2 linked regions of the Homo sapiens genome follow. The protein of the gene in region 1 interacts with the protein of each later gene in a biochemical or structural test. Each region holds a gene or a part of one and is shown on either strand. Other genes may lie near its edges.

The links. The genes of interacting proteins can lie anywhere in the genome.
Region 2: the proteins of PDZRN3 (region 1) and RAPGEF2 interact in a test that uses a peptide from one of them, tested with the Homo sapiens proteins (one large-scale study listed by IntAct).

The regions. Positions count from the first base shown.
Region 1 is NC_000003.12:73,604,442-73,607,941, reverse strand, and holds part of PDZRN3 (E3 ubiquitin-protein ligase PDZRN3), read left to right. Parts: intron 1-3,500. UniProt on the Homo sapiens protein: E3 ubiquitin-protein ligase. Plays an important role in regulating the surface level of MUSK on myotubes. Mediates the ubiquitination of MUSK, promoting its endocytosis and lysosomal degradation. Might contribute to terminal myogenic differentiation.
Region 2 is NC_000004.12:159,337,079-159,340,578, forward strand, and holds part of RAPGEF2 (rap guanine nucleotide exchange factor 2), read left to right. Parts: intron 1-1,232; coding exon 1,233-1,390; intron 1,391-2,035; coding exon 2,036-2,276; intron 2,277-3,500. UniProt on the Homo sapiens protein: Functions as a guanine nucleotide exchange factor (GEF), which activates Rap and Ras family of small GTPases by exchanging bound GDP for free GTP in a cAMP-dependent manner.

The sequences.
Region 1 (3,500 bases):
CTTTTCTTTTCCTGACCATCTCCTTGTTTATTAGCTTAAAAGGAAAGTAGTTAAAGGAAAAGAAAACAAAAATCTTTCATTCAACAAATAAGTATTGAACATAGGCTGTTTGCTAAGGGCCAGGAGATACAATGGAGGCCAGAAAGACTGAGGCCCTGTGGTCATTGAGTCCTGGTGGGGATGTCAGACAAGAAACAAGTGAATACAATAATTAGAGATTGGATTGGAAGAAGTATGATGAAGGAAAAAAAAATGGGAGGATGGCACATGGCAGATACCAGCCAAGAAGCAAAGGGTATCATTAGCTTGGGTTATCAGGAAAGACAAGAGGAGATAGTAGTAAACAGAAACCTAAAGGACGAGAAGATGCCAGCCATCCAGATAGGAATAGTGTGTGCCCTGCCCTCATGGAGCTCACCTCCAGATGGAGAGACTGATGAGTTGGGAGAGCATAGCACTGCTCTCATTGATGTACTCTGTGCCTGCCCACAGCTAATGATGCCCTGGGATGAGTTAACCCTGCGGGAGGAGGTGTCCTGGGGAGGGGCCGTTGGAGCTGAGTTCAGAAGGTTGAACAGGAATTTGCTAGATCAGAGGACCATATTTTATTTGTATATATAATGTGTACACAGTACCAAACGAATACATTATGTGCCTTATAAAAAGTTACGTACAAAAGGGAGTATTTTAAATAATGAAATTAAAATATGACTATGAAGAAAATGTGAAGTATGTTCTCCTGCCATTCCAATGCATTGTGTTACACGCATTCACCTGTGAAGACCCCTGAGCTAGAAGAAAGCGGTTGGACGCTGGGGTTTTGCAGGGGTGGGGATTGGCGCTCATACAAGGCCTGGAGCAGGAACAGAGTTGGGAACTGGGGGAGCTGCAAGTAAGCAGAGTGTGGAAAGAGTTGAGGGATGGGCAGGGAAGTGGCCAGAAAGAGGCCTGGTGAAGAAAACAAGGGCTTGACCCCAAAGGGCCTAAGTCTTGAGTCTGGGATTTAAATTACCTAGGGCGGGAGTGGCCAACACATGGCTTCAGTTGAAGGGAATGACACAAAGAGATTTATGATTAAATTCCCTTTGCTTTTAGCCCATTCCACAGTTTCAAAAAGAAACAAACAATGGCTTATTATAAGAAACAACAACTTAATTATGTGTTTGCAGTTGTTAAAATGATGAACATTATCTGTCTTATCAAACATACATATAAAAAAGAACATTTTAAATGGTGAGACTAAATTGTAAATATGAAGGTAGATGGGGACAGGGATAATTCCCACTTTATTGAGCCCCAGGGATGTCATCACATGGTTGTATTTCTTGCATTCGCTCTGTGGAATTCTTAAAAAACTATAGAACCGCGTGAGGTTGGTATATTTTTATTTTTTCCTTTTACCAGTTGTCTGAGATCCCAGGCTGCATGTCATCATGTGCTGTTCTGATTTAGTCCTTGCTGCCAGGGGTCCTCCGTACTCTCCAGCCTTCGGAGGGACTGAGGGAGCAAACTGCACTCAAATATCTAGACATTTGGCTCCAGGAAGCAGCAGGGTCAGACTTGAGCCCGTGGTTCAGAACATGAGCCCATGTTCTACAACTTACCATCAAGAACATGTTTTGCCATTTAGCACAGATGAGTTGGCTGTTCCTTGTTTACATTCATAATTATTCCTCCACCCTTTGTTACCAGTTTTGAGAAACAACTTTAATAAATTAAGATTCACTTCACAATTAGGTGTTTCACAAGCTATAGCAAACAAAAGAACCCAAACCAAGAAGACCTATTCCCTGCCCCAGGTCTAAACCACACCAAAGCCTACTGTTGGAAATTGCTCAAAATGGAGAGGCCTGTGGCCAAGTGATTGTTGGGAAACCTACTGTGTTAAAGCCAGTGAAGATGGTGTTCAGTTTCCACACTCACCAGGTGCAAAATGACATTCCAACCCCACTGGAATACAGTTCTTCCCTGTGCTTATCAAAGAGCATGTCTAAGTTATTTTCTTTTTCTTTTTTACAAAAGGTGCTTTAAGTACAAGCCAGACCTGATTTTGTAGCTTGCATTAGTATTTTCAATTTATGTGGTCTTTTTGCAAGAACTGCCTGCATGGTCCCCAGAGGAAAATTTAATTCCATGTGCATGTGTTTGCCATAGTGTTTTTCAAAATTTGCCCTGATTAGCAGAAATAGCATCATGAAACCTGAATGTATTCTGCACTGTTGCCTGGAAAATCTGGCAGGTCATTGAGTACATGCTAAAAAGCCAAGATGAGCAACAATGCACACACGTTGTTAGTTACTAGAAGAATACAGTACAAATGATGTCTGTGTTTCCCAAGGAATTCCTGTGTTAGATGCTTGGTTGGGTTGTGAAATAGCCCAGCCATAGCTCTGACATAAGGCTTTTCATTGCATGATCAGTATGCAATACTCTTAGCAAAATCATATCATTCATTTGTTAGTCCTCATAACCCTAAAGAAACAGCAGCTAGTCTGTTGTATCAAACCTCTCACTTAAGCCTTTGGGAAGTGTACTTTATCGTTAGGTACCCTTGCTATGAAAACAATCCCCTTTCATTTCTCTCTTACTCAAGGCAGCAAAACAAAATAAATTCCAAGTCATATTAGTTCACCTTGATAAATAGCTGTAACTAACTCTCTTAGGAGAGGAGCCAAACAAACTAAGAATAAAGAGATGCCTTTTAAGAGAGAAATCTAGCTTTTTTTTTTTTTTTGAGACGGGGGTCTCACTCTGTCACCCAGGTTGGAGTGCAACGGCACAATCTTGGCTCACTGCAACCTCTGCCTCCCAGGCTCAAGCCATCCTCCCACCTCAGCCTCCCAAGTAGCTGGGACCATAAATGCTCGGCTAAATTTTTGTATTGCTAGAGATGGGGTTTCACCATGTTGTTCAGGCTGGTCTTGAATTCCTGAGCTCAGGCGATCCACCAGCCTCGGCCTCCCAAAGTGCTGGGATTGCAGGTGTGAGCTGCCATGCCTGGCCTGCTTTATGTGCTTTTTGCATCCTTCCCCACCCCTCACCACTGTCTCAGTTTAATCTCACTGCTGGTGTTTGTTCTTGCTTCTTCCTCTCTGATTTTTGCTTGAACTTTCTAGTACTCCTTAAGAGTTATTACTTATGTGCAATGTGGTATTTTGCAAAACAAACGAAAGCCAAAATCCTATCCCCTATCTCCCTCTTTCTCTCCAGCCAAGAAATGCAAAGTGGTTAAATCAGAGTAAACACAGATCTCTTTTCATTTGATATATTGACATCACCTCTTAGGGAACTCAAGCTTGTTCATAAATCTTTTGTGGTCCATTGAGACTCTTCAAGTTCATCTAGTGGAATATTCCATAGCCTGAAATGTTGGACTTCTGAATTCCTGTGTGTTTTGAGTTTTCTCAGTGGGAGACAATATTGCACACAGAGCATGTAATGTGCAAGAGGATCCGCTTCGCCTCAGTTTGAAACTGAGCCATACCACTTTTTAGCTGTGT
Region 2 (3,500 bases), on another chromosome or scaffold:
AGTAACAGGCTTTTTATAAATGGAAATGAGTTTGTCACTGTCGATAATAACCAGTATTTCTCTGGATACTTAAATGTGTAGCTAGAAATTTTGATCAGAGAATTAAAAGTGAGTCATTGGATTTCTGTTGGCTTTTCTTTGATGCTAGGAAATGTCACCATGCACCACTGTTTTTTTATGCTCTGTATAATCAAGAAATAATGTCTGTGTCAGTCTCCTTACATTTGACTCCATAGTGATCTCATTTTTTCTCTAAAACATCGAGAATAAAATTAGGACACTTTGGATTTTTTTCCTCCTGTTTTCATTTTACCCAATTTCTTCAACTATTGAAGGTCAGATTATAAAATAATTTATCATTCTGATGCAGAACTATCAGTTGAGTGAGTTAAATGTATTCTTTTTAATGTGCTTTTTTTAAAATCCATTTCCATCAGAAACTAGAGCTTATTTTTTTTTAAATATATTTCTGTGCTGAGAAACTACTAATATTTTTTATGGCTTATCTACTTAGAAAAACCATAGGTTTGGCCGGGCGTGGTGGCTCACGCCTGTAATCCTAGCACTTTGGGAGGCCAAGACAGGCGGATCACAAGGTCAGGAGATCGAGACCATCCTGGCTAACATGGTGAAACCCCATCTCTACTCAAAATACAAAAAAATTAGCCGGGCATGGTGGCGGACGCCTGTAGTCCCAGCTACTCAGGAGGCTGAGGCAGGAGAATGGCATGAACCTGGGAGATGGAGCTTGCAGTGAGCCGAGATCACACCACTGCACTCCAGCCTGGGTGACAGAGTGAGACTCCATCTCAAAAAAAAAAAAAAAAAAAAAAAAGAAAGAAAAACCATAGGTTTTAGAGAAACATACTATACACTTAAGAAACAGCAAAATGAGGCTGGGTGCTGTGACTCATGCCTGTAATCCTAGCACTTTGGGAGGCCACAGCAGGAGGATCACTTGAGGCCAAGAGTTTCAAGCCCAGCTTGAGCAACAAAGCAAGATGCTATATCTAAAAACAAACAAACAAAAACAAAAAACAAAAACAGGAAAATGAGTTGGATACACTTAAGCAGTAGTTGCTTTTGCAGTTTTCAACCAAATTTATTAATGGTGTTTTTACATGAGCTGCAAAAAAAAAATGGAATATGGTTTTTGGTCTGTGTTTATTATATAGTGATGATGTACAACTTTTTAACTTGTTGATAATTTTCTAATTTTCCTCTTTGTTCAGTGATATTGGGATTGGTCAGTCTCAAGATGACAGCATAGTAGGATTAAGGCAGACAAAGCACATCCCAACTGCATTGCCTGTCAGTGGAACCTTATCATCCAGTAATCCTGATTTATTGCAGTCACATCATCGCATTTTAGACTTCAGTGCTACTCCTGGTGAGTATCACCAACACTTCTTTTGTTTTCTTATAGTTATCTTTTTATTTCTAACATAATGGTCATATTATATGTATCTCTCTTCATTTGGCATGGATTATATCAGATGCTGAGTAAGGATGAAACTTAAACTTTAAGATTTTTGAAATCAGGTGTTGGAACCAGTTCTCTTTACATTCAGCAGAGTATTTTTATATGGCCATAGGCAAATTATCTGTCTGAACTTGTTTCTTCTTTCATAAAATGAAGATAACACATCCCATGCCATGATTACTAAATCATATCAAATAGATAGAGTAAGAGGCATATTTTAGGTCTAATTAATGGACTTTTCAATACAGTAAAGATTAACTCTGGATTTAAATTTTATTTCTTTGATGCCAGCATGACAGTCTTGAGTGCTACTGTTGTGTACTGATGTGCTTGCAGCTGTCTGTAGTTCAATCTGTTATCTTTTAGGGAAAGGTATGTTCTTGCAGCAAAACAGCATGTAGATTGATTCTTTGAGGAAGACCTAGAGTAAGGGAGAGGTAAAAGTTCAGCATTGCTTTTTCTTAAGGAGCTTTTTTCTGATTACTTTGCTTAATTGCATTGCCATATATTAAAATTCTTTCTACTTATGTGTGTGATTTTTCTTTCCCCCAGACTTGCCAGATCAAGTGCTAAGGGTTTTTAAGGCTGATCAGCAAAGCCGCTACATCATGATCAGTAAGGACACTACAGCAAAGGAAGTGGTCATTCAGGCTATCAGGGAGTTTGCTGTTACTGCCACCCCGGATCAATATTCACTATGTGAGGTCTCTGTCACACCTGAGGGAGTAATCAAACAAAGAAGACTTCCAGATCAGCTTTCCAAACTTGCAGACAGAATACAACTGAGTGGAAGGTATATATTATCTACCTTACTGGATTTCTTTGTCCCCTCTTCGAACCCACATCAAAGTCTAAGAGATGAGCAATTTTCAAAGTGTTTTTTAAATGAGTAAGTGTCCCTGCGATTAAAAAGTATTGTTGTTGTTTTTTTTTTCCTTTCACCAAGAATTACTGTATGAAAGCAAATGCACACAGTCGACTACTGACCCTAACAAGGATCTCTTAGGAACTTGTTCAAGGCCACTGTGACCTGAAGGTTGTTACTGACTTCCAAAATGCGTGCTGTAACTTCTCATGCTTGCCTTGGGGTCCTGGTTTGGAAGGGTAGAGTATGCTTGATGTAAAGTCACGGGGTTAAACCCTGGTGCTGTCTTCCCTTTGTATATGTACGTTCACAAACACATTTTCTAATCATATTCTAGTGTCATTTGCTCCTGCATACCCAACTTTTCTAGGAGCTTCCTTAGTTTAGGCAGAGACATCTGTGACAATGTGGTTGGCCACTTCTGCCTGTTATTGTACATTATGCTATGAAATACACTTCTTAACGCTGAAACCAGACTTTACTTGCTACAGAGCTTAGTCCTTTGCTGCAGAAGTGCTTATATCACACGTTACTTGCAAGAAAATGTTGTGTCTGATTTTATCATTCTCTTCAATGATATTTTCACTGTTAGGTATATGTAACTTTATCTTCAAGTCACAATAAGTAAGTGCAAGTTGAAAAAGAAAATAGTTGCTTTGGTTCTCATAGTGGCTGGTTGCTACACTCAAAATTAAGTAGTTCCATAAATCATATTTTTTCTATTTTTAACTTACGGAGTGTTTCACTGTATTTGACTTTTTCATGTTATAGATTTAAACCAGGATATAATTCATTGAAACCTTTGATTTTCTTGCCATCAACTATAACTTTCTTATTCCTCTTCACTTTTGTTTTCAAACACTAGCAAATAGTTTTGTTTTAGTAGCTCTGTTTTTTCCACTTATCATTTCAATGCACATTGATATATCTGGAACCACGATAGAGTTTTACAGAGCTCCACTGAGCTATAGATTCATGATTCACATTCATTATTGAAGAAAATTATAGATGGGTATGTCATGGGCTTCATGAGTAATCAAAATGGAGAATGTTAAATCTGTGAAAGTCAAGGGCGCAAAGTATATATTTTCTGTTATATGTGTTTGCCTTGGTGAAATACACAAAAAAAATTTTAGTAGGGCCCCTACTATG